2 separate regions of the Homo sapiens genome follow, and region 1 is linked to region 2. Evidence: fine-mapped expression QTL. A gene starts in region 2. The other region holds a variant in brackets. All regions are shown on one strand. Distances are from middle to middle. Region 1 has its middle 150 kb from the start of UST. Region 2 holds the start of UST (uronyl 2-sulfotransferase).

What was found.
Region 1: its variant is fine-mapped to the expression of UST in visceral fat (GTEx, PIP above 0.99). The same link has a PIP of 0.9 or more in esophagus muscle, fibroblasts, subcutaneous fat and transverse colon.

Annotation. Positions count from the first base shown.
Region 1 is chr6:148,587,328-148,599,099 of GRCh38, forward strand. No RefSeq gene overlaps it. Among named protein-coding and RNA genes, the nearest start is that of UST, 150 kb to the right of the region's middle. The variant C/T (reference allele first, on the strand shown) is at 5,831.
Region 2 is chr6:148,740,571-148,752,342 of GRCh38, forward strand. UST (uronyl 2-sulfotransferase) reads left to right here and starts at 6,460. Exons shown (of 8, transcript NM_005715.3): 1 at 6,460-7,107. The coding sequence starts at 6,861. It overlaps LOC124901425 (a long non-coding RNA gene), which reads right to left and starts at 5,029. Exons shown (of 2, transcript XR_007059806.1): 1 at 3,414-5,029. RefSeq lists enhancers at 6,089-6,148, 6,209-6,288, 7,597-8,098, 8,099-8,598 and silencers at 6,859-6,948, 7,249-7,418.

The DNA of each region.
Region 1 (11,772 bases), 150 kb before region 2:
CCAAGTGTGCCTGTAAGAGGTGGCTGGAGACTCGTATTGGGAGGTCTTACCAAGTCAGTAGGAATGGGATCAGGGATTCACTTAAGTAAGCAATCCAGCTGCTTTTTGGTAGAGCAGGTGTGCTGTGTTGGGGATCCCTTCAGCCCCGATTGGTATGGGGTCTCCAGGACCCACAGGCTGGGCTGAGTGAGAAGTCCAAACAGCCAAGGTGGTGGCCTGCTCCACCCCCTGGGCACTTTGTTCCAGGGGGAAATTAGAGCTCTGTTTATGGAAAACTGGTTGGAGTGGCTGAAGCTCTGGCTGCGAGGTCCTGCCCAGTGAGGAGGAATGGATCTGGGTCCTGCCTAAAGAAGCAGTCTGGCCACAATCTGGCAAAGTGGCTGTGCTGCACTGGGAGACTTTTCTTATCTGGACCATTTGGACTTTCCAAAGCTGGCAGGCTGGAACCACTGAGTTGACTGAACCACAAAGATGGTGGCTGTCCCTCCCCACAGGAGGCCCTGTCCCAGGGTGAGATCAGAGCTCTGACTGTAGACCACTGAATTCTTCCATATTTCAAACTTTTGAACTATTTTTATAGCTATTATGATAATCTGTGGTCAGTGATCTTTGATGTTTCAATTGCAATTGTTTTGAGGTACCACCAACCATGCTCAGATAAGAGGGCAAACTTCAATAACTGTTGTATGTGTTCCGACTGCTCCACCAATCTGCTGTTCCCCCTTATATCTCTTTTGCTGGGTTTCCCTATTCCCTGATACAATAATATTGAAATTAGGCCAATTCAGAACCCTACAATGTCTTTAACGTGTTCAAGTGAAAGAAAGAGTTACAAGTCTCACCCTTAAATCAAAAGCTAGGAATGATTAAGCTTAGTGAGGAAGGCATGTCAAAATCTGAGATAGGCTGAAAGCTAGGCTTTTTGCATCAGTTAGCCAAGTTGTGAATGCAAAGGAAAAGTTCCTGAAGGAAATTATAAGTGCAACTCCAGTGAACACACAAATGTTAAGAAAGTAAAGCAGTCTTATTGCTGACATGGAGAGTTTGTGTGGTTTGGATAGAAGATCAAACAAGCCCCAAGATTTTCTTAAGCCAAAGCCTAATCCAGAACAGGGCCCTAACTCTTCAATTCTATGAAGGCTGAGAGAGGTAATAAAGCTGAAGAAGAAAAGTTTGAAGCTAGCAGAGATTGGTTCATGAGGTTTAAGGAAAGATGCCATTTCCATTACATAAAAGTGGAAAGTAAAGCAGTAAATGCTGATGTAGAAGCTGCAGCAAGTTATCAAGTTATCCAGGAGAGACAGCTAAGATCATTGATGAAAGTGGTTACACTAAACCACAGATTTTCTTTTTTTTTTTTTTGAGATGGAGTCTCGCTGTCTCACAGGCTGGAGTGCAGTGGCGCGATCTCGGCTCACTGCGAGCTCCACCTCCCGGGTTCACGCCGTTCTCCTGCCTCAGCCTCCTGAGTAGCTGGGACTACAAGCACCCGCCACCACGCACAGCTAATTTTTTGTATTTTTAGTAGAGAAGGGGTTTCACCATGTTAGCCAGGATGGTCTTGATCTCCTGACCTCGTGATCCTCCTGCCTCGGCCTCCCAAAGTGCTGGGATTACAGGCGTGAGCCACCGTGCCCGGCTAAACCACAGATTTTCTATGTAGATTAAACAGCCTTCTGTTGGAAGAAGATGGCATCCAGGAGTTTCATAGGAGGAGAAGCGAATGCCTGGCTTCAAAGCACTGAAGGACAGGCTGACTCTCGTTAGGGTCTAATGCAGCTGGTGACTTGAAGTTGAAACCAATGTTCATTGAGCATTCTGAAAATCCTAGGGCCCTTAAGAATTATGCTAAATCTACTCCACCTGTGCTATATAAAGAAACAACAGGATCTGGATGACAGCATATCTGTTTATAGCATGATTTACTGAATATTTTAAGCCCACTGTTAAGACCTACTACTCAGAAAAACAGATGTCTTTCAAAATATTACCACTCATTGACAATGCAGCTAGTCACACAACAGTTCTGATAGAGATGTGCAAGGAAATAAATGTTGTTTTCATGCCTGTGAATACAACATTCATTCTTCAGCCCATGGATCAAGGAGTAATTTCGACTTTCAACTCTTATCATTTAAGAAACACATTTTATAAGGCTTACAGCTGCCATAAATAGTAATTTCTGTGATGGATTTGGGCAAAGCAAATTGAACCTCATAGAAAGTATTTCTCATTCTAGGTGCAATTAAGAACATTCGTGGTTTATGAGAAGTCAAAATACTGACATTAGCAGGAGTTTGAAAGAAGTTGATTCCAACCCTCATAGGTACCTTTGAGGGTCTCAAGACTTCAGTGGAGGAAGTCACTGCAGATATGGTAGAAACAGCAAGAGAACTAGAATCAGAAGTGGAACCTGAAGATGGGACTGAATTGCTGCAATCTCATGATCAAACTTGAATGAATAAGGAATTGCCTCTTATGGGGAGCAAAGAAAGTTGTTTCTTGAGATGGAATCTACTTCTGGTGAAGATGCTGTGAACATTGTTGAAATGACAATGAAGGATTTAGAATACTATGTCAACTTAGTTTATGAAGAAGTGGCAGGGCTTGAGAGGATTTACTCCAATTTTGGAAGAAATTCTACTATTGGTAAAACGCTATCAAATGGCATCTCACGTTACAAAGAAATCTTTCATAAAAGGAAGAGAGAGTCCATCGATGCCTCAATTTCCATTGTTGTCTTACTTTAAGAAATTGCCTCACAGCCACCCAAACTTCAGCAACAATTACCACCATCAACACTGTGGCAAGACCCTCCACTGGCAAAGCTTACAATGTGTCAAAGGCTCAGATGATTGTTAGCATTTTTTAGCAATCAAGCATTTTTAAATTAAGGTATGTGAATTGTTTTCTTAGACATAATGATTTTGCACACAATAAACTGTGGTATAGTGTAAACATAACTTTTAGATATACTGGGAAAACAAAAAAATTTTTGTGACGTGCATTTTTGTGACATTCACTTTATTGCAGTGGTTTGAACAGGACCCACAATATCTCCAACGTATTCCTGTATACACCTGGACCTTAACCAGTGGGAAAAATGAGCAGCAAAGTTGTCCTGGGTCAACTAGAGCTGGAAAGTGTCGGGGCTGGGACAAACCAGGCACTATCTGTGCCCAGCCCCCTCTCAGCTCCACTAAACAGCTTTTTTTCCTCCTTCAGCTCAAGGGCCACCAAAGTGAGGGGGGCTGGTGATGTCTGTGGTGCCCCTGTCCATTCATGCCCAAAACAGGTGAGAATGGAACCACACAAAAGTGAAAATGAAACTGGTGGGGAGGAGGAAATAAGGTTCAGAGGGAAAGAATAGGGGTGCACACAGGAAAAAGAAGAAAAACAAAGGGGAGACTTTCACAGATTGCCTAGCCATGGCACTGGCACAGGCAGTAAATGATGTGGATTCTGTCTTGGGACATGTGGCTACTCTATTCTGAAAATGTCATTTGCTTAAAAAAAAAAATTATCTATTGCCATTTAGCCCTCCTGGATATGCAACTTAAAAAAATCAAATACAGAAATTGGGTTATTTTCTCCAAATAAATTGAGAATATTTTATATTACTTATTGTGTCTTTATAGTAGAAGATATTGCGAGTTTTTCACCTAACGTTTTCCTTTTTGTCATGGACGCACAACTGGATTGCATTTCCCAGCCTCTCTCACGGGTAGGTGTGGTCACATGACTGAGTTCTAGCCAATGGAATGTGAGAGGAAGCCAGAGCTGACGCATAGAACCTCTCACGTTATTTTCCCTTCCATGGTGACATGGGAAGCATCCATTGAAGAAGGTGGAGCCATGGGTGGGAAAGGAGCCTGATCCCTCAGTTATAGTCAGCCCTCCAAATCTGTGGGCTCCACATCCTTGGATCCAACCAATGCTGACTTGAAAATATTTGAAACAACAACAACAAAAATAACAATATAACAACAAAAAATAATACAAATAGGAAACAATATACAGTAACAACTATTTACACAACATTTACATTATATTAGGTATTTAAATTTTTTTTAGAGTTGGGGTCTCACTATGTTGCCCAGGCTGGAGTGCAGTAGCACAATCATAGCTTACTGCCATCTCAAACTCTGGGGCTCAGGCCATCTTCCCACCTCAGCCTCCCAATGTGTTAGGATTACAGGTGTGAGCCATTGCACCTGGCCTGTGTTAAGTATTATAAGTAATCTAGAGATGATTTAAAGTATACAGAAGGATGTGCACAGGTTATATGCAAATACTATGCCATTTTGTATCAGGGACTTGAGCATCCAGGGATTTTGGTATCTGCAGAGTTGTGGAACCAATCCCCCAGGGAGGCTGAGGGATGATTAAACTTTTTGTGTGTGTGTGTGTGTGAAGTATTTGACAGGTTTACATCACTGCTCACCACTAGGGAACAAATTAATCATTTTTTCTGTGCCTCAGTCTTTTCCTTATCTGAAAATATTGATAGCAACTACCTCCTGGGGCTATTGGAAGTACTAAATGAGTCAATATTTTCACACTTAGAATAGGGCTCTGCTTAGAGTAAGCACTACATAAGGATATATTAAATAGTGAAAGCTCTATAAGTGTCAGTATTATATTAGCCTTTATGGCTGTTAAGGACTGAATATTTGTGTATCCTCAAAATTCTTATGTTGAAATCTTAATCCTCAATGTGACAATACTTGGAGATAGCAACTATGAGAAGGTAATAAAATTAACTGAGGTCACACATATGGGTCCCTAATCTGATAGGTCTGGTACCTTTTTTTAAATTTTTTTTTTGAGATGGAGTCTCGCTCTGTTGCCCAGGCTGGAGTGCAATGGTGCGATCTCAGCTCACTGCAACCTCTGCCTCCCAGGCTCAAGTGATTCTCCTGCCTCAGACTCCCGAGTAGCTGGGACTACAGGCACGTGCCACCACACCCGGCTAATTTTTTATATTTTTTGTAGAGACAGGGTTTCACCATGTTAGCCAGGATGGTCTCCATCTCCTGACCTCTTGATCCTCCCGCATTGGCCTCCCAAAGTGCTGGGATTACAGGCGTGAGCCACCACGCCTGGCCTGGTGCTCTTTTAAGAAGAGGAAAATATATCAGCATTCTCTCTCTGCACACGTGTGCACCAAGGAAGGTCATGAAAGGACACTGTGAGAAGGTGCCATCTGCAATCCAGGAGGGGAGTCCTCACCAGACACGAAATCTGCCAGCACCTTGATCTTGGACTTCTTAGCCTCTACAACTGTGAGAAAATAAATTTCTGTTGTTTAAGACATGCAGTCTGTGATACTTTGTTCTGGCAGCCCAAGCAGATGAACACAATGGCTATTCTAAACATTTTAAGACATTTCCTTGAATGGTAATGAGAATAACCTTGGTTGATAGGTTTTCTTTTTTCAGGATGGCATAAAAGTTAGGAGTTGAGGTTGAGGTGTCAGATGAGTTGGCCTGGGTTCAAATCTTGGCTTTGCAGTACTGTGAGACATGAAAAATTTACTTAACTCCACTAAGTCTTAATTTTCTCATTAATAGGACTATAATATCTACTTCATAGGGCTATTGGAGGATTAATGAGATAATGTTTGTAAAAAAAAATTCAGTGGAGTGCCTGGCACATAGTTAGTCCTAATTAATCTCAGAATCTGTTTTTTTTGGTTGTTATTGTTGTTGTTGTTTACTTTTTGGCGCCAAAACTCTTCCTTGAAGCAAAATCTTAGATAAATAGCCAATCCAGCATAGATGGAAGCAGAGGGTAGGGCTTGGAAGGGAGGAGACCCTCTGTCCACCCA[C/T]GGGCTTCTCCTCACATCCAGTGACATTCTCCAGAGTGTCCCTGAGTCACCTCTGTGGAATCCTAGCACTGCTCAGCACAGTTTGATCATTTATAGGACTTGAAGTTCCCTAAACGATTATTTTGTTCCAGTTTTAACATTGTTATGACTACGAGAAGTGGCATGTGGCCGTGAAATGGAAGTGGAAGTTGAAATTATACTCACACGACCTTTTCCCTATGTTTGGGCCTCTTCTGACTTAGCAAATGACTTCCACCACTGCCTCTCACGCTCACGGGTTAAGCCCCCTCTCTACAGGAGTCGCCGCCCTTTCTCCCGTCTGCTTCTGCTGCATGGAGAGGGGTGGCAGGACGCTGACATGATGCTGACATGATGCTGTTGCCCTGCTGCCTGGGGCCCCATTGAGGGGTCCAGGCTCCAGATGAGGAGTGAGAGCTCATGAGATTTCATTTGTAGAGCCGGATGGCTAAGTTTCTGACAGATAAGGCCCTCAGCCAGTTACAAGGCATGGTTGTGAAACTAAATTATCTAGGGAAAAAAATGAGCCGTTCTGACACCCCCGTGCCTTCATCCAGTCAAAAGTTAAATTATCGCCCAAATTTTCCCTCTGTACCTCTACTTAGCGGTACAAGTGTAAGCCATACATAAAACTCCAGTTAACTCTGACTGGGCAGGAGTGGCTCCATTTCCCTTGCATTCAGAGGAGGCCACGTGGCTGCTGAAACCCTTAGGGGACTTTCACTCCCACTGGGATGAAATTTTAAGTCTTAACCATGGTCTCTGACCTCATATCCTCTCCGTCTCCTCCTGACCCTTGCTGCTCCAGTCACTCTTGTCTGGGGTTCCTCGAGCATGTGAAGTATTTTCCACTGTCTGAGCCTTTGCACATCTGTTCCTGTGACCTTCCTCCCAGAGAGCCACGGAGCTCCATTCTTCATCAACTTCCTCCTCAAAAAGGCCTTCCTTGCTTGCCGTGTCTAAAACAGCATCACCGATCCCTCTCTAAAATTGTGCCCTGCCAACATACAGTTACGTAGGAGGAATAAATTCAATGTTTGATAGCAGAATAGGGTGACTATAGTTAAACAAAAATGTATTGCACCCAGGAGATGGACACCCTAATTTGATCACTATACATTATATACATGTAACAAAATTTCACATGTACCCCATAAATTTGCACAAATAATAAAAAGTCAACATGAGCCTTTCTTTGTATTTATGGCTCTTACCTCCATCCCACATAGAGTATGGACAAATATCGACAATTGCCTATCTCCCATCCCCTTCACAGACATGGAGCAGAAACTGGGTCTACTGCGTTCACTACCATAGCTGCAGGTTCTGGAACAGTGCTTGGCACATCGATGCTCCATGAATCCACGCTGAATGAATGACTAGGTGACCTTAACTGTTACTCGTGCATCTGCACAGTTACAAACTTGCAGAGGCATGCAGAGAAGTGGTGGATAGTATTGGCTCTCAGCTGCTTGTATTGTGGCCAGGCCTATTGATGCCTGGATTTGTGGCCTTTAGAAAACCCATGTAGGCCCAACAGAAAGGTCCAAATAAGCCTGATTCACCTTAGCGGGAGAGTTCATATCTGCGTTAATTGTTTTAACCATGAAGTGACGGTTACACCTCTGGCCATTATTCTTGCTTGAGGAGAGTAGTTCCCATCTTATTCCTGTTTCTTAACTTTATCTTATGCTACAGTGGCTTTATACTGTGTTAACTTCGGCTGGTTAGAATTATGTTTCACAGAATTCCCTTCCCAGTATGGTTCTGAGTTAGAATTGGCCAAAAGAAAGTTGGCCAAAGCATGCTCAGTAAAAACAGATGCTGAGATGCCAGTTACTGCCAGTGGTCATCATGCTTCCCTGCTCTGCATTCAGCCCCTCCTCCTGCCAGCTGGCCCTGCTGACCAGCATCGACTGTGGTCCACCACCAGGTGTAGGAGCAACATCTTGCCTGGACTTCCCCATCAGCTCTCCACTGTCCTTCCTCTCCAGCATCTGGATCTGCTGGCTTCCCGGAATCCCTGCAAGTGCTGACTTGCCCATCTGTCCCAGTGCTTCAGGAGGGCTGCATAGGGCATTTTCCCAGAACCTCCAGCTCTCATGTCAGACCTTTACTTCCAGCTCCTCCCACACTTGTGTAAGGTTTAATCCCTGTAAGAAAGTCCTATTCCATCATCCTCATTGTCATTCCTCTTCCCTGATTGAACTTTCATTCATACACATGAAAAGTATCCTGTACTCAGCCTGCCAATTAATAATCATTTCTCCAGCATTATCAGCAGCATTTTAAATATGGATACTTTCTTTCTAAATACTTAATACACTTGCCTTCCTCTACTTTATAGCATGATCTCAATAATTATCTAATATATAATGTAATTTGTTATTTCCCAAAATATGCTTTGATGCTTTTTGATGAGATACAGACTAAAGCTTCTTAAAAATTATTCAAAACAGTCATGTGTCCTATATGATGTTTTGGTCAATGACGGACTGCCTACATGACCGTGGATGGAGCAATAGGCTAGGTGTGTACTAGGTTCTACCTTCTAGGTTTGCATAAGTACACTTAAGTACACTCTATGATGTTCACATGATGAGGAAATTGCATGAGAATGAAATCGCCCAACGATGCATTTCTGAGAATGTATCCCCATTACTAAGTGACGCATGACCGTACTGGGAAGTAGAAAATATAATCAACACTGAAACTCATTATTTCATGAATATTATAAGTCAAAACAGAGCCAAATTTATGGAGCCAAAAGAAATAAGTAAATTAGAGGATAGTATAAAGATACTATGAGAATGACTGGTATTTGGGGAACTTGGATACAGTCACCAATGTGAGATAAGCTCTGATTTGGGAGGCAGGAGACCTTGGTTGTGGCACCTCCTCCAGAGGACAGAGCTACAGAGGCAGATGGGTGCTCTGTGTGTGCAATGCTGGGCAACCTTCGAAGGCACTCGGCTCATCCTCCCAGATGACCCGTCCAGTCCCAGCCTCTCCTTGGAGCCTTGCCAGCCCCTAATATTTCAGCCTGTAAATGCTCCAATTACCCAGCGCTGCCCCACACATCTGCAATCACTTATAAACATATTTCCACCACTTCTGTCTCTTACTACCCTACTCCCCTGCACTCACAACTTGCATTGTTAAAGTTACCTTCACTTTTCACATTATTAATTTTTTTAAACCATATCTGAACTGGGAATTAAACTATTCCTAATTTTAAAAAGAAGCAGATGCTCATTGAATAAATTTGAACAATACAAATAAAATGTGCTAGTTTATCTTTGCTCACCTACTACTTTTACTTAAATTTTATTTTAAGTAATTTTATTTTATTTTAGAGATTGGGGCAATCTTTCCCCCAATTTGATATAGAATCTTCTAGGATTTGTTTTTTATTTAAGTATTTGCATGTAGGATTTTTAAAAAATAAAATGGGGTATTCTATGCTTGTTATTCAAGACTTTACCTTTTGCATTTATCAATGAATCATGGATATTCTTCCATGTTATGTACAAGCTCACCTCATCTTTTTTAACAGATGCACAGAATTTTACAATGCTATGTTTGAAAATGACTCCTGAAGGCCATTGAACCACTTTCCATGTGATTACATCAAGTCCAAGACCTGCATTAAGCCCCAGTGTCCTAAGGCATTCATTGTATGTCACAAATTAACTTCCTTCCTAGGTCTCTAGAATGATACTAGAATGCAACATCCTTGGAAAAATCAGGAGATAGTCACTGGGATCACTTTCTGTATTCTGTGGTTCAGATGAGAAACCTCACTTGAGCAAGACTAGATCTCAACACAACACAGCATTGGATGCTCAACCCTCTTCTGCCAGAGGAGCTCCCAGATTTCACAGTTCCTCTTGTAACTGAACACAGGTTTGGCTGTTTGCCACCTGCAAAACCATAACAAGGATGGGGTGCTGTGGAAGGAAAGCGACTTTATTTTCTGAAGCCAGCAGTGTGGAAATGGTTCAGTCTCCTGTCTGTTAAAAGAAAAACTTCAGCTGAATTAAATTTAAAGGAGTTTAATTGAGCAATGAACAATTCATGAGTCAGGCAGCCCCCAGAATCACAGCAGGTTTAGAGAGACTCCAGGGATGCCTCATGGTAGGAACAAATTTAGAGACAAAGAAAGGGAAGTGATGTATAAAAATCGGAAGTGATGTATAGAACAGCTGGATTGGTTACAGGTTGATGTTTGCCTTATTTGAACACAATTTGAACACTTAGCAGTCTACGAGTGATTGAAGTATGGCTGTTGGGATGGGCCAAGACTCAGCTATTGTTACAGGCACATACTCCTAAATTAGGTTTTCAGTCTTGTCTGCTTATTAAGCTAGGTGACAGTTCATCCACAAGGACTCAAATATACAAGTATGGAGTCCTTCTCAGGCCCTATTTAGTTTGCTTTAACACGCCTTAACAAAACTACTTGGAAATTCCCAGGCAAAATGCTAAGGTTTAAGAAAGAGAAATTTGGTATGGAGGGCATGCAGTGCAGGACTATGTGACTTGTTCCAATGACTTATCCTGAGTTATTGTCTCATCTGGTGAATGGGCTGGCACCATCTTGGGTTTGACAGGGTTGTAAATTAGCTGCAGCCTTAAAGTAATCTCCTAGTCAAGGAGAATTCCATAGGCACCTGGATTGTCTGAAGATTCAGTCTCCAGAACTTCTAAGCAAACATAATTAGATAAACCAGCAATGCAAGGAAGTGCCTAGTGGAAAGAAGGAGAGTAAAGGTTACTATTTCATTAGTAAAAAGTTAATACAAAGGGCCACAGAAAGAAAAGGAAAAAAAAAAGTAAAAATAGAGTACTTAATTACACTCCCATGCCCACTAACCCTCATCTAGTAATAGACAGAGTTATCACATACACACATATGTAGGGGAGATTAAAAAAACTCTTCCTTTCCTCACTTAGCTTCTATGGCTGGGATACTGGAAATTAAACTGAAAAAAGACAGATGAATAAGAGAAAAACACAGTTTATTCACACATGCAGCATGAATACATTCAAGAGAAATCTGGTGATTGGTCTCTCAAAGGGGCGATTAGAACTTGGAGCTTATAGAGCATGTTAACAAAGAATGATAAAGTTGTAGAGAAGTGACAAGGAAAAGGGGCTTAGGCTTTCAGGGGTGGGAAGGTAAATATAAGGGGAAAGACAAGTTGTTTTCCTAAGGTTTGTTATGTAGATTTCATCTCTGGGCTGATAAGAATCTGATTACTAAGAGTTATTCTGCTCTTCCTGGTACAGGAAGGGCACCTTTCTCATGGGAAATTTTATGTCCTACTTTTAGATAGAAAGGGGAAGGTCAGAAAGCTCTTCCTGCATCTGCTGTTTTTCAAGTGTCTTCAGCTCAAAATAATCCTTATGCCAATGGCATATTTTGGGGTGGCATATTCTGATTCCCTACAATAAATACACAGTGAACTAAACTCCCACCTTTAATATTATTGCTCTCTCTCATATTGGCTCTTACTTAATATTAATAATTTCAGCTAACACTTTTGGAACACATTTTATATCCCAGGCACTGTGCTAAGCATGTCATATAATCTATGTCATTTCGTTCTTTCAACAACTCCATGAGACTCAAAGGGGTTAAGTAAGCCTTCCCATGGTCACACGAATAGTAAGTGGGAAGAGACTGAAAAACGAATTTAAGCCTGCAGATTACTTCTAGTTCTCCAAAGCCTCACTAACACTGTTGGGATAAGCTCAGCCAGGAGTTGGAGTGAAGCTATCTTTTCTATGTTTGTATTTTGCTATGCCAAACACCCTTTAAGGCTAAAAGACTCCAGTTATCCATCTTAGCTTGTTGGCCTTGAGAGGTAAGGAAGGTCTTTACACACAATGGGCACTTAAATCCATTTGAATGATGACTC
Region 2 (11,772 bases):
TTCAGGAAAAATAGAGACAGTACTGAGACTGTTTCCAAAAGAGGCTTTAGGTGGCTAATAGTGTCACACTGGCCAGTCTCAGGGACCAGTTGTGCAGTGCACTTTTGACTTGAAATACAGTTGTTGTTAAGCATAAGTTAAAAGCTGAGTTTTCAAAAGTTGTGTCATTGCATAGGAGTTTAAATATAAGCAATAGCTTATTGGCTACTAAGTGCAGTTTTTATAATCCTCCCATCCAAATGTGCCTCTAGATCATACACTCTGGTCAGATATGCTTTTGAGACACTGTTCAGGCAAAGGCAAGCACTACCTTCCCAGATGGTTTTCAGTGCATTTCTGCCCCACAAACCAGAGCAACTCTCCAGTTTCTTTCTTTCTCTCTTTCTTTTCCAAGGTCAAAGCTCAGACAGCTTGGTTCTCCAAGAGACTGATGGCCCCAATCCCTGAAATGAACAGCAGTCCTAAAGAGCAGCAGCCTCTCTGCCAAGGGGAATGGCAACACCAGGCAAAGCCAATAGACTCATCTCTTTTATGATTCCATGAGGCGTTCATGATCACAGGGAGTAGCTGCATTGCTAATTAGGGGTCACGGAGGTGGTGAGGGCCTCATTCATTCATTCACCCTTTCTTTCAGTGAATACATCTTCAACTGCAAACAATTCTTTTGATGATTATCTGAATGTTCTCGCAGCACGGAGGCCTACTTTCTAGGACCTCCACGTCTCATCCGCACTTGGCCGACCACGGAATCAATGAGATTTGACTCACCGAACATCAGACTCTTCCTATAAAAAACTCATCTTTTTATTCAACAAATATTTCTTGAGTGATCACTACCTGTGAGCACTATTCTAGGTATTGGAGATAAAACAATAAACAAATGGGACAAAATCATAGCCTTCAAGATGCTTGTTTTCTAGGGGGGAGAAATATACAACACATACAAAATACTAACATTTCAGATTATGGTACATTCCATGGAGAAAGCTAAAGAGGTCAAGAGAATAAGGAATGTGGATGCACACGTGCATTACATAGAGAGTAGTCCCAGAAAACTCCTCTGATAAGGCAACATTGAGCAAAACTGGGAGGAAGTCAAAAGTCAAGCCATGCAGAGGTGTGGAAAAGAACTTTCTAGGCAGAGGGAAGTGTGAAAGCAAAGGTCCTAATAGAGGAGCAAGTTTTTGTCTTGTCTGATGAATGAGGATAGGTAAGGGTGAGCAGGAAAAGTGATAAGAGATGAGGTCAGAGAAACAATGGAGCCAGATTGAGTAAGACCTCAGAGGCTACTCTAGGATGCTGCCTTTTACTCTGAGTGCATTGGAAGCCACTGGCAAGTTTTGAGCAGCAATGGCTATTTTGGCTGCTCTGAGGAGAATGGAATATGGGGTGAAAGGCTGGGAGCAGGCAGACCAGTCAGGAGGAACAACAGAAATTGCTGATTGCCACATAGTAGCCATCTGCCCTTTCTTTCTTTAGCAATAGAACCCTGATTCTTATTTGTGGCAGCAACGCACCCAGCTAAAGTCTAGATTTCCTAGATACTCTCTGTCCCCTGTCCCTTACAATTAGACAGAGTCATGTGATTAATTTCTGGCCAATGACCTATAAGAAGGTAGATTTATAGCACACTTTGGAGCACTGCTTAAAAAGAGCCTACTCAGTTGGGAGTTCTTTGCTCTTTTGCTTCCTTCTGCTGCCAACCTGGAACATAGACATAATAGCTGGAACTCTAGCAGCCATCTGCAACCATAAGGAGATCTTTTTGTTTTGTTTTGTTTTTCTCCCCTTCTGCATTCTTATCATTTATTTGTGGTAAGAACACTTAAAATCTATTCTCTTAACACTTTTCAAGTATACGATACGATATGTTATTAACTATAGTCACTACGTTACAGAACTCTTGAATTTATTCCTGCTGCCTAGCTGAAATTTTGTATCCTTTGACCAACATCTCCTCAATCCCTACCCTTCCCTCCTTAAACCCTGTTAACTGTAATTCCTCTCTCTGCTTCAATGAGATGGCCTTTTTTAGATTTCACATATAAGTGAGATCATGTAGTATTTGTCTTTCTGTGTCTGGCTTATTTCCTTTAACATAATATCCTCCAGATTAACCTGTGTTATTGCAAATGACAAGATTTCCTTCTTGAGGCTGAATAGTATTATCCATTCATCTATTGATGGACACTTAGGTTGATTCCATATCTTGGCTATTGTGCACAATGCTGCAATGAACATATCAAAGAGGTATGAAGATTTCATACCTTTTTGAAATGCTGATTACATTGCATAAGACGGCCTTTAAAATGGAAGCCACATGCTGAGGATGGTGGAACAGAAAGCTCAGGTGGGTCCCTGAGGATAGCATAGAAATACCACACCAAATCTGGACGGCCTATTTCTGGACTCGTTTCACATGAGAGAGAAATGGGCCAGGCATGGTAGCTCATGCCTGTAATCCTAGCACTTTGGGAGGCCGAGGTGGGTGGATCATTTGAGGTCAGGAGTTCGAGACCAGCCTGGCCAACTTGATGAAACCCCGTCTCTACTAAAAATACAAAAATTAGCCAGGTGTGGTAGTACACGCTTGTAATCCCAGCTACTTGGGAGGCTGAGGCAGGAGAATCACTTGAACCCCGGAGAAGGAGGTTGCAGCGAGCTGAGATTGCGTGGCTGAACTCCAGCCTGGGCAAAAGAGGGAGACTCTGTTTCAAAAAGGAAAAAAAAAGAGAGAGAGAAAAAAAAATAAAGTTCTTTTCTGTTTAAGCCACTGGTTTTTAAATTTGCGGTTTTTTTTTTCCAGCTCTATGTAGCTAAACTGAAACATGATGAATATAAGTAGCCTTTGCAACAATCCAGGTGAGAGAAGACAGTGGTTTGGCCCGGGGGGGTGGCAAAGGATGTCAGATACTGGACTTTTTTTTGAATCCTATAGGATTTGCAGATGGTTTAGATACAAGAATGAATGAACTATTAATAGAAAAACTAAGACTTCTGGTTTGGGGCCCAAGTGACTTGAGAGTGTAATGATTTACAGAGATGCAGAAGGCTATGGAGGGGGCAGGCTTGGGTGTGGGACTGGGGTTGGTGGGAACGGCAGTCTAGGGCACACGTGGCAGCATGGCCTTGATAGAAGCAGGAACACGATGAAACAGGGAGGGAGGCCAAGAGCACGGGGCACAGATTGGTAGGAAATGAGTGAGCTCTCATCCTACTGCTTCTATTTTCTCAACAAAGGCTGATCCAGGTCATCCCCTGAGACTGAAGGGAAGAAAGCAGAGGGTGGAGATGGGAGGTTTGAAGAGAAAGACACTATGGAATAGTCCTTTTAGTGAGTGGGATTGCTGGGCAGCCATGGGTGTGCATCTGTCTGAAATCTGTGCTCTCTAATTTAAAGAAAAGCCACTTACCAGCGCTGTGTGTTTTTCTGCAATCCAGTCCAGTTGCATGGTTGGGTTTAACTGAGCCTGGGTTTCACCAGACAAGCACTGTAGGATATAAGATGAGAGAAACAGGGGGAATGAAGGGGTGTTTGCAAGAAGGAGATCAGAATGATGGATCAGGAATCAAAACTGGATAAAGAAAGAAGTAAACACATGAGATGGATGAACACAGACTTGACAGTTCTTGAAAAGACCGAAAAACAGGGTGGGCTCCAAAGAAGCCAAACAGAAGGATAGAAGGTTGTGAAGGGGGAAAAGGAGATTTCGGAGATGCAATTAGTCATCAGTGAGGACAAGGTCAAATGAGTCACTGGAGAGAGAAGGAATTGAGAAGCTAAAGATATTGAATGGAGGTCAAGGTGCTGAATAAAGTATATTTCATTATAAGACTAATAATAAAATTCGTTCACAACTTCCTCTAATTAGATTTGTTATCTGCTTTGAATAAAGATACCATTAATTAGTCTAAGTACTTTAAATTTAATTTTTTTTTCTGAAGGGATATTTATGGGACTTCAAAGAACAAAGTTTTACCCAAACAACTAAGTTTTTGTTGGGTGAAAATATAAAGCATTTTTTTCCATGTGAAACTTCTTTGTATCTTGATATCTCTTCTTTTTCTTCTGTGAGTTTTTTTAGGCGGCGAGTCTATTAACACAATCTTTTAAAGATTGACCTGTTTATTCTCTCTGAAATAGTTCATGTCATAGCTTGTTTCTTCTAAGCTGGACTTTGCCCCCTTGTACTTTCCTTGCAACTTTTTCATCGTTTTTTAAAACAACATTTATTCTCATATTTACTTATTTTCTCAAATGTTTGTTTCCTTTCTTCCTGCTCCATCTCCCTGTTCCTCAGATTCCTTTCCTTAGGAGAAAAAATTGGGGTATTTCCCACAGCATGCTGTGAGAAAAGTCTCTGAACTTCCTGGGGGTGGGACTTGTGAACACAGAGGGTCTTGCACACTATTTTATATCCAGCGAGTGTTCAGATTACAGGGCCAGGCCTCAGATACAGGTCCAGTTTGTGGAAGGCGGTCCCTGAAACATTATGAACACTGCTTTGCTCCTTCTGTCTCCTAGTCCCTCTTCTTAAGCTCAAACGTTATTAATTGGGAGTCTGTTCTGGGCTACTCATTGTACTGATTAAAGTAATTCACATTAATGGGCAATGACTGATCTACTCAATTCTCTTAGGGGAAGTCACATTTCTAAAATGTGCATATTAATCCAAATAAAACCCTGATTCATGAGATAAATGTAAAGCAAATGATTAACACTCTATTCAGGGTTTTCTGTCACAGAACAAAATATTTTCTTTTCTCTTGGGGCCCCAAAACAGCCTTCTCATCCCTTAGAAAGTGGGCTAGGACAATGTAAAATTGGACAGTAGAGTTGTGTGTGTGTACGTGTGTCTCTGTGTGTGTGCAGCACCTGTCACCTCATCTACACATCTCTCTAGCTCATGATATATGTTTCAAATCATGAACCAGAGACATTCATATATGAACATGGTTAAGACATATTCATTCTTTCTTTCTTTCTTTTCTTTTCTTTCTTTTTTTTTTTTTTTGAGACGGTGTCTCGCACTGTCGCCCAGGCTGGAGTGCAATGGCGCGATCTCGACTCACTGCAACCTCCGCCTCCCGGGTTCACACGATTCTCCTGCCTCAGCCTCCTGAGTAGCTGAGGTTAAGACATATTCTTAACGAGTAAGTTCTTTGTCTAGGATAATATTTTGTAATTTTCCACAGAATATTCTTCAGATGCCTAACTTGATGAAGGTTTTCAGGAGCCTAGTCTTAGAATCATAGAGGTTCTTGGCTCCTGGTTCCTTCTTAAATCCAATTGTTCATTACTGGAATATACAAATGAGTAGGGAGCCAGAAATGATAGGCACCAGAAACTGAGGTTTCCATTTCTCAATGTGGCCTGAACTAAATGAATTAAATCTCATCCTCCTATGGGACGTGAAGGAAAAGGGCTCTGGCTGGGAAGTACTGCTGTGCAGTGGTTAGTATAGTGGGTCTGAGGGTCAAATAGATTTGAGTGCAACTCCCAACCCAACTCCTACTACTAGCTTTGGGACCTCGGGTGAGTCACACAGCCCTCAGGTGCTACAGCTTCTATAAATAGTGATATAGTATTCTTACTTAAAGTGTGGCTGATCAGAGCAGCCCTTCCGTGGATCAACCACCCCATCAGAGGATCTATGTCTAGGATTGAGCCTTTTCTGCCCCAGGAGGTTCTTTCAGGTCCAGAGGCTTTCCCGTGGAGGGAAGAGAGGCAGCAATGAAATCAGCGTATAGGCGGACTGGGCTCTTTCCCCTTCATGTCTGCAGGGCAATGACCTCCTAGAGTCCGCTATGCACCCCCCACTTGCCTCTCTGGGCACTGCGAGGTGGAGCAGTTGTAGGACCAGGAAAAGCAAGAACAGAGCGTCCTCTTCGGCTACCCTACCCGGGAGTTCAGGCGCTGCGCCTGGCCCTCTGGGGCGTGTTTGACCATAACTCGCACCGCTTGCTCTTTTCCCATTTCAGCAAAGTCTTGAGCCTGTATTCTAGTACCTTTTATCAGCCTTGGGTAAGCAGCTCGCACGGGGTATATAAGGAGAATCAACTTTCTGAACTGAAAAAAATGTAAATAGTAAAGTCAGTCGTGCTTCTTCCTGCCGGTGACTGTTTACAAGAGGGAAGTCAGCGGGGCCCCCAAGAGGTCGCTGGTGGCGCAGGAACCGCATCCAGATTGTAAAGAACGGGGGAAGGAAAAAAAAAGAAAACACCCAGAAACTTTCTTCCTTGTTGCGAATAATCGCCGCCTCCCCCCCTCCGCCCCCAGCAGAAGCAGTAACGTGACACCCGAGCGAAATCCCGAGACCCGAGCGGAGAGGGAGGGGAGAGGGAGGAGAGTGCTGCGGAGCGCCGGAGGGAGAAAGGGGAGGAGAAGGAGGAAAACCCCTGTCAAGGAGGTGGAGCGAGGGGATGGTGTCCGCCTCCTGTTCCTCCCTGCCGTTTTTTAGAGAAGCCTGAACCGGGACAAAACACGCCGAGACCTACAGACACAAAGCCGGGGGGTCCACGCTGGCGCTGGAGGCGAGCCCCGGCGGCCGCAAGCGAGCCCGAGGCGCGGCGGGGCGCGGGGCGTGGGGACGCTAGCGGGCGCCGGACGGGCGCGGCGCCCCGTCACGGGCAGCGCCCCGAACCGGGGCCGGACACCTCGGCCGCTCGGGCCGCGGCGGCGGGGACCATGCCGAAGAAAGTCTCCTGAGCCCGGCAACTTCGGCCCCTCCCCGCCCCCACCCGGCTGCCCTCCGCGCGGCCCTCCCCATGTGCAGCCGGCCAGCCGGGCTCTCCTCCTCGCGGCGGATGGGTGACCTTTTCCTGGCACGGGCAGGCTGTGGGAGGCAGCGGAGCAGGCGATGAAGAAGAAGCAGCAGCATCCCGGCGGCGGCGCGGATCCCTGGCCCCATGGGGCCCCTATGGGGGGCGCCCCTCCGGGCCTGGGCAGCTGGAAGCGTCGGGTGCCCCTGCTGCCTTTCCTGCGCTTCTCCCTCCGGGACTACGGCTTCTGCATGGCCACCCTGCTGGTCTTCTGCCTGGGCTCCCTCCTCTATCAGCTCAGCGGGGGACCCCCTCGCTTCCTGCTCGACCTGCGGCAGTACTTGGGTAAGGAAGCTGGGCAGGCGCTAGGGCGGCGCCGACAGCGCAAAGTTGTGCGGCGGGGAGAGGGTCGCGGCGGGGACTTCTCGCGCTGCCACCGCGCGCCGCCGCCGCCCCGGGTCTCTCCAGGTGCTAAGCCCGTGAGCATCTGTGCCGCGGTCGGGAGCGCCTTCTTCCTCCCGCGCGTCCGACTGTCCTCACCGAGGCGGGGGCGCCGCTGGGTTGCGCTGCCGGCAGGTACCCCGGGGCGAGGCACCGCTCACCTTCCCCCCGCCCCACCTCCGCCACCCGGATCCGGACTGGGGCGGAGTGGATGGGTGTGTGGGGTGTGCCGGAGTGTGTGTATCTTCAGGCCTGGCGGCGCGGGGAGTGGCGAAGGGAAGGGAAGGTCCTCTTCGTTGCATTGTTAGTGACCGCAGTTCAGTCCCGTCCCGCGCCCCGGGGAGTGTGGGTGGGTTTAGCCCTTTGCCACCGTCCGCTCTGAGAATTCTGTCCCGCAGATCCCCCGCCTGCCCGCCGGCCCTAGTGGCTCCGCGCTGTCCCCGGGCTGGCTTGTCCCTTGGCTGCCGCTGCCCACCCCGCCGCCCGCAGCTAGCCTGGCGCGGGGAACGGGTTGCATCCAGGGGTTTGGGGATGCCCGAGGGCGCTGGTCAGCCTGGCCAGCAGTGTCGCCCCCAGTAACCCGAGGATCCTCGGCGCTGTGTGCGTCTCAAGCTCAAGTCAAAACTTGTGTGTGTGTGTGTGTGTGTGTGTGTGTGTGTGTGTGTGTGTGTGTGTGTGTGGTTTATTAGGAGAGAGGCCGCCTGTCTTTAGCAGAAGTAAGGAAGGGGTTTGACGGGAGGGAAAGAGCCGCTCCAGCGAGAAGGCGTGACCCCGCAGCTCCCTCGTCTCGGCTGCGGGAGCCAGGGGTGCCAGGGACAGGCGAGCGCAAGCCCAGGTCGCAAGGACGATGCTGGCACTCGCGTTCGAGCCAAGGGAGGATGCAGATCCCTCCCAAGTCTGTGGCCAGAAGAGGTCGTGCGGGGGTGAAGGCTGGGAGAGCTCCAGCTTCTTGCAAGCATCCGAAGTGATAAGCCTGAGCATCTGCACGATGAGAGCGAGTGCGGGGAAGCAGAGCCACCGAAGTGCTGGAAAGAAAATGGGCCAAATGACCCGGGCCAGCTGGAGGCTGCCACAGTTACCCCAAACGTCACTTCGTGGCAGAAGCCACAGGTCTAGATAGTAGACCGTTTGGAGAAAAGAGAAAAGAAAAGGAAAAAAAAAAAACCCAAAACAAACAAACAAAACAAAGCAAAACAAAAACAAAACCACATCAGCCAAGTTACAAATGTGTTAGGGCATTTGGAAATGTAGATGTGGATAAAATAATATTCTTTACCTTGTACAAGACCTCATATTTTAAAAGTTACACTTTTATTTCTTTATAAACTTTGGGGAACTACAGATTACAGGAAAAGTTGGCCCAAGTAGATTTCCATAGCATTTGGTTTCATAGAGGATTTGGGGCAATATATCCTTTATTAGGGAATCAAACCTCTTCTTTTCATAAGTTCTGTATTGTGGAGTCTCATAGCTTCCTCCACTCTCTGACACCTGCTAGTGCCACAAAAGTTAACAGTATTTTCATCACCAGCAGCAATCCCTGTTAACAGGCATTGGGAGGCAAGCGTTGAGGCTCAGGGTCTTTCTCCATTAAATCTGACAGTGAATTCTTGTGGAAGTTCTTTTTAAGTAATAGATGGAGGCCAGGGGTGTAGGGAAAAGTGTAATGGACCAGGATGGAAGTCATCTGTGCTCATTGTCCTCAAAGCACCTGGCCTCGTGTAGGGTACTCAGACTTCATAGGCCTGGTGTTTCATGGCAGAATTAGAAGCCACACCTGACTGTCAATGAAACCTCCACCCAGCTCCTAAAGTTTTGGGGTTCTGACACCTTTCTTGAGGAAGGGAAATTCTGGGAGGAGGAAGGAGCAAAGGTACTACTGAGGATAAAATCAAGACATTTCAACATATATTGCATTAACATTTTCACTTTATATTTCCAAACAATGAGGCCTAATAAATTTGGGTGGTCAGTTGGTAGAAGGGTGAATTCTCAGCTTCTGCTCAGGAAACTAGGAAGAACTGAAAGATTGAATGCTGCTCCTGTTACTAGCTGATCATTATATTTCTGACTGATGTGATAGGTTCAAAATGACATCATTGTGAACTGAAAATAGAATACCCTTGGCCAAATTTGTTCCCTGTTACGTAAATATAATGATTTTTGGGAAAAGTGGGCTTGTGGTATTTTGGATGGTCTAAAATATACCTTTAATAATATAAGGCCACTGTGTCTGCAGAATTACTTTCCCCTGTTTTCCTCCATTCTTTTATTTTAGTGTCTGTCAAAACAAAACTTGTGGTTAGTAAACACATCCTCTCAATTTCCTCAGCCAATTTTGGCAGCAAGTATTTTTCGTAAATGTAAGTTCATGTAAAGTAAAAATTTTCCAAATCAAAATATGTTTATATCAAACACTTTTCTTTACAGAGTATTATTTCAGTATACTTATACAATATTCTATGTCTGACACACAATGGCCACTCAATAAATATTGGTTGAATTAATGACCCAACCTGTTGTATCAAACAGGTAGTGTGATATTTAACGTACTGAATATTCTCATAGGAAAGCCAAGAGACAGTAGCATTCATAGTAAAAGCTAGTATTTATCACGCATGTGCCAGTCAGTGCATACACAGGGTGACATTCAATCTGCACAGCAACACTGTCGGTAGGTTCTATTGTTATTTCCATTTTCTGTATGGAAAAAATGAGGGCAAAGAGTTATGAAGGACACATAGCAAGCGAGGCAGGACTTCAACCCATGTCTGTCTGATTGCAATACCCATTGCATAGCACTATGGGCAGTTTAAGGGAGAAAATGGAAGGACAGCCAAGATGCAAATGGGAATCTAAAGATCGGGACTGGCTAAAAACGATCCATCACATTTACATCCATAATTCCACTTTCCTTTTCTTGATACTTGTACTCTGAGTATCTTGAGGAGCCAGCAGAGAAGGGAAATAATTCAAGCAGCTGGTTTGCTTTAACTCTACCTTTCCGTATTAATCCCCACTATGTGGCCTCCATTTATTTAGGGAACTAGACCCTCCCTGAGCTGGACAACAACTGGGAGTAATGTTGGTCGGACTCGCATCTTCCGGGCGTTTTCTCTTTCTTTAGCAGTTGTGCTATGTCTAGGCTAGTGGTTCCCAATGTGGGTCCTTGGACCTGCCGCATCAGCCTCACCTGGGAATTTGTCACAAATGTACATGCTAAGGTCTTATCCCAAAGCTGCTGAAGTCTGGGCACAGGGCCCAGCAATCTGTGCGTCAGCAAGTCCTCTAGGTGATTCCAACGCAGAGAATTTGAGAACCATTGTTGTTGAGCAACAACAAAGTATTGCTTTCTGGAGGCTTCCCATGTATTTGAGAGAAAGGAGGAATGTGAGGCGGGGTGGGTAGATTTATAAAGTATTTAAAGGTACTTTAATACTTTAAAGTATTTAAAAATGTGATTTAAAAATGTACATGGTTTCAGTTTTTAATTTCAACTTTTAAAAATGCATCTTGTTTGCTACTTAAGCCCCACTGTTTTGAGGGAAGGACCAGCCAACGGCACCCACCCCAGCTGGCTTTAGACCTTCCAAGGTTAGGAGAGGTGTGACGTGAGGAGTAGGCTGACGTGGGGCAACCGGAAAGCATAGTGTGGGGAAGGACGAGAACAGAGCCACTGATGATGCTTTCTCTTCCCCATAGGAGACAGTGGTGAACAGTCCTTCTTCCTAGTCAATTTGGGGAAAGGCAGAGTATGTTCTACTTAGAGAATGTTCTGCTGTAACACATTTGAAAAGAGTAAAGGAAGTGATGGGGAGGAAAATCATGCAAGGATAACTGTTATCTTGATTTCCCACCCTGAGATTGGGTGGAGGGGGAGCACAAACATACATTGGGGTAAATAGAAATATATAGCAAATGCTACACTTAAGCTTGGAGACCATGGTCTTTCCAATTCAGTGAATTTTTTTTTTTTGAAATGGCATTCAAACTTTGTTTTGCTATGGAAAACAAACAAAAAATCAAATAAAATCTCCCCCAGAAATTAGGTTATGATGCAGCCTTGCTGCCAGTAGCCTTATTACTTATGAGCTGTGGAAATATCAAAAACTTGGAATAAGACTCATTGATATAAACAGAATAAGCCAGATGGCTTACTACTGATCTTGTACAACCGACAAACTCTAATGATCTATCATCCAGCCTTGGATATGTGATTTAGACTTTATGGGAGCTAAACTTGTTGGACTCATTCCCAGCTGATATGCTTTCCTTTCCATTTTTAATTTATACCACTTTAAATGGAGATATAGAACTTTAGTTCTCAGAATTGCCAATCTTTACGTATATTATATATGAGCCTGGCAATTTAGAGTCAAAAAATGAAAAGTATGTCATGTTATTGAATTTGAAATTCTCTAAGTTTAAGTGCATTTAAAGGAAAATGTGAAAATAGAGGTCCATATCTGTTACAAAATAGTTTCTTTGAACCTAAAAAGCCAAATTTTATTTTTCTTCTGCATTTCACACATGGTATAAATATAATACTTTAGGCTCCAAACAGTAATC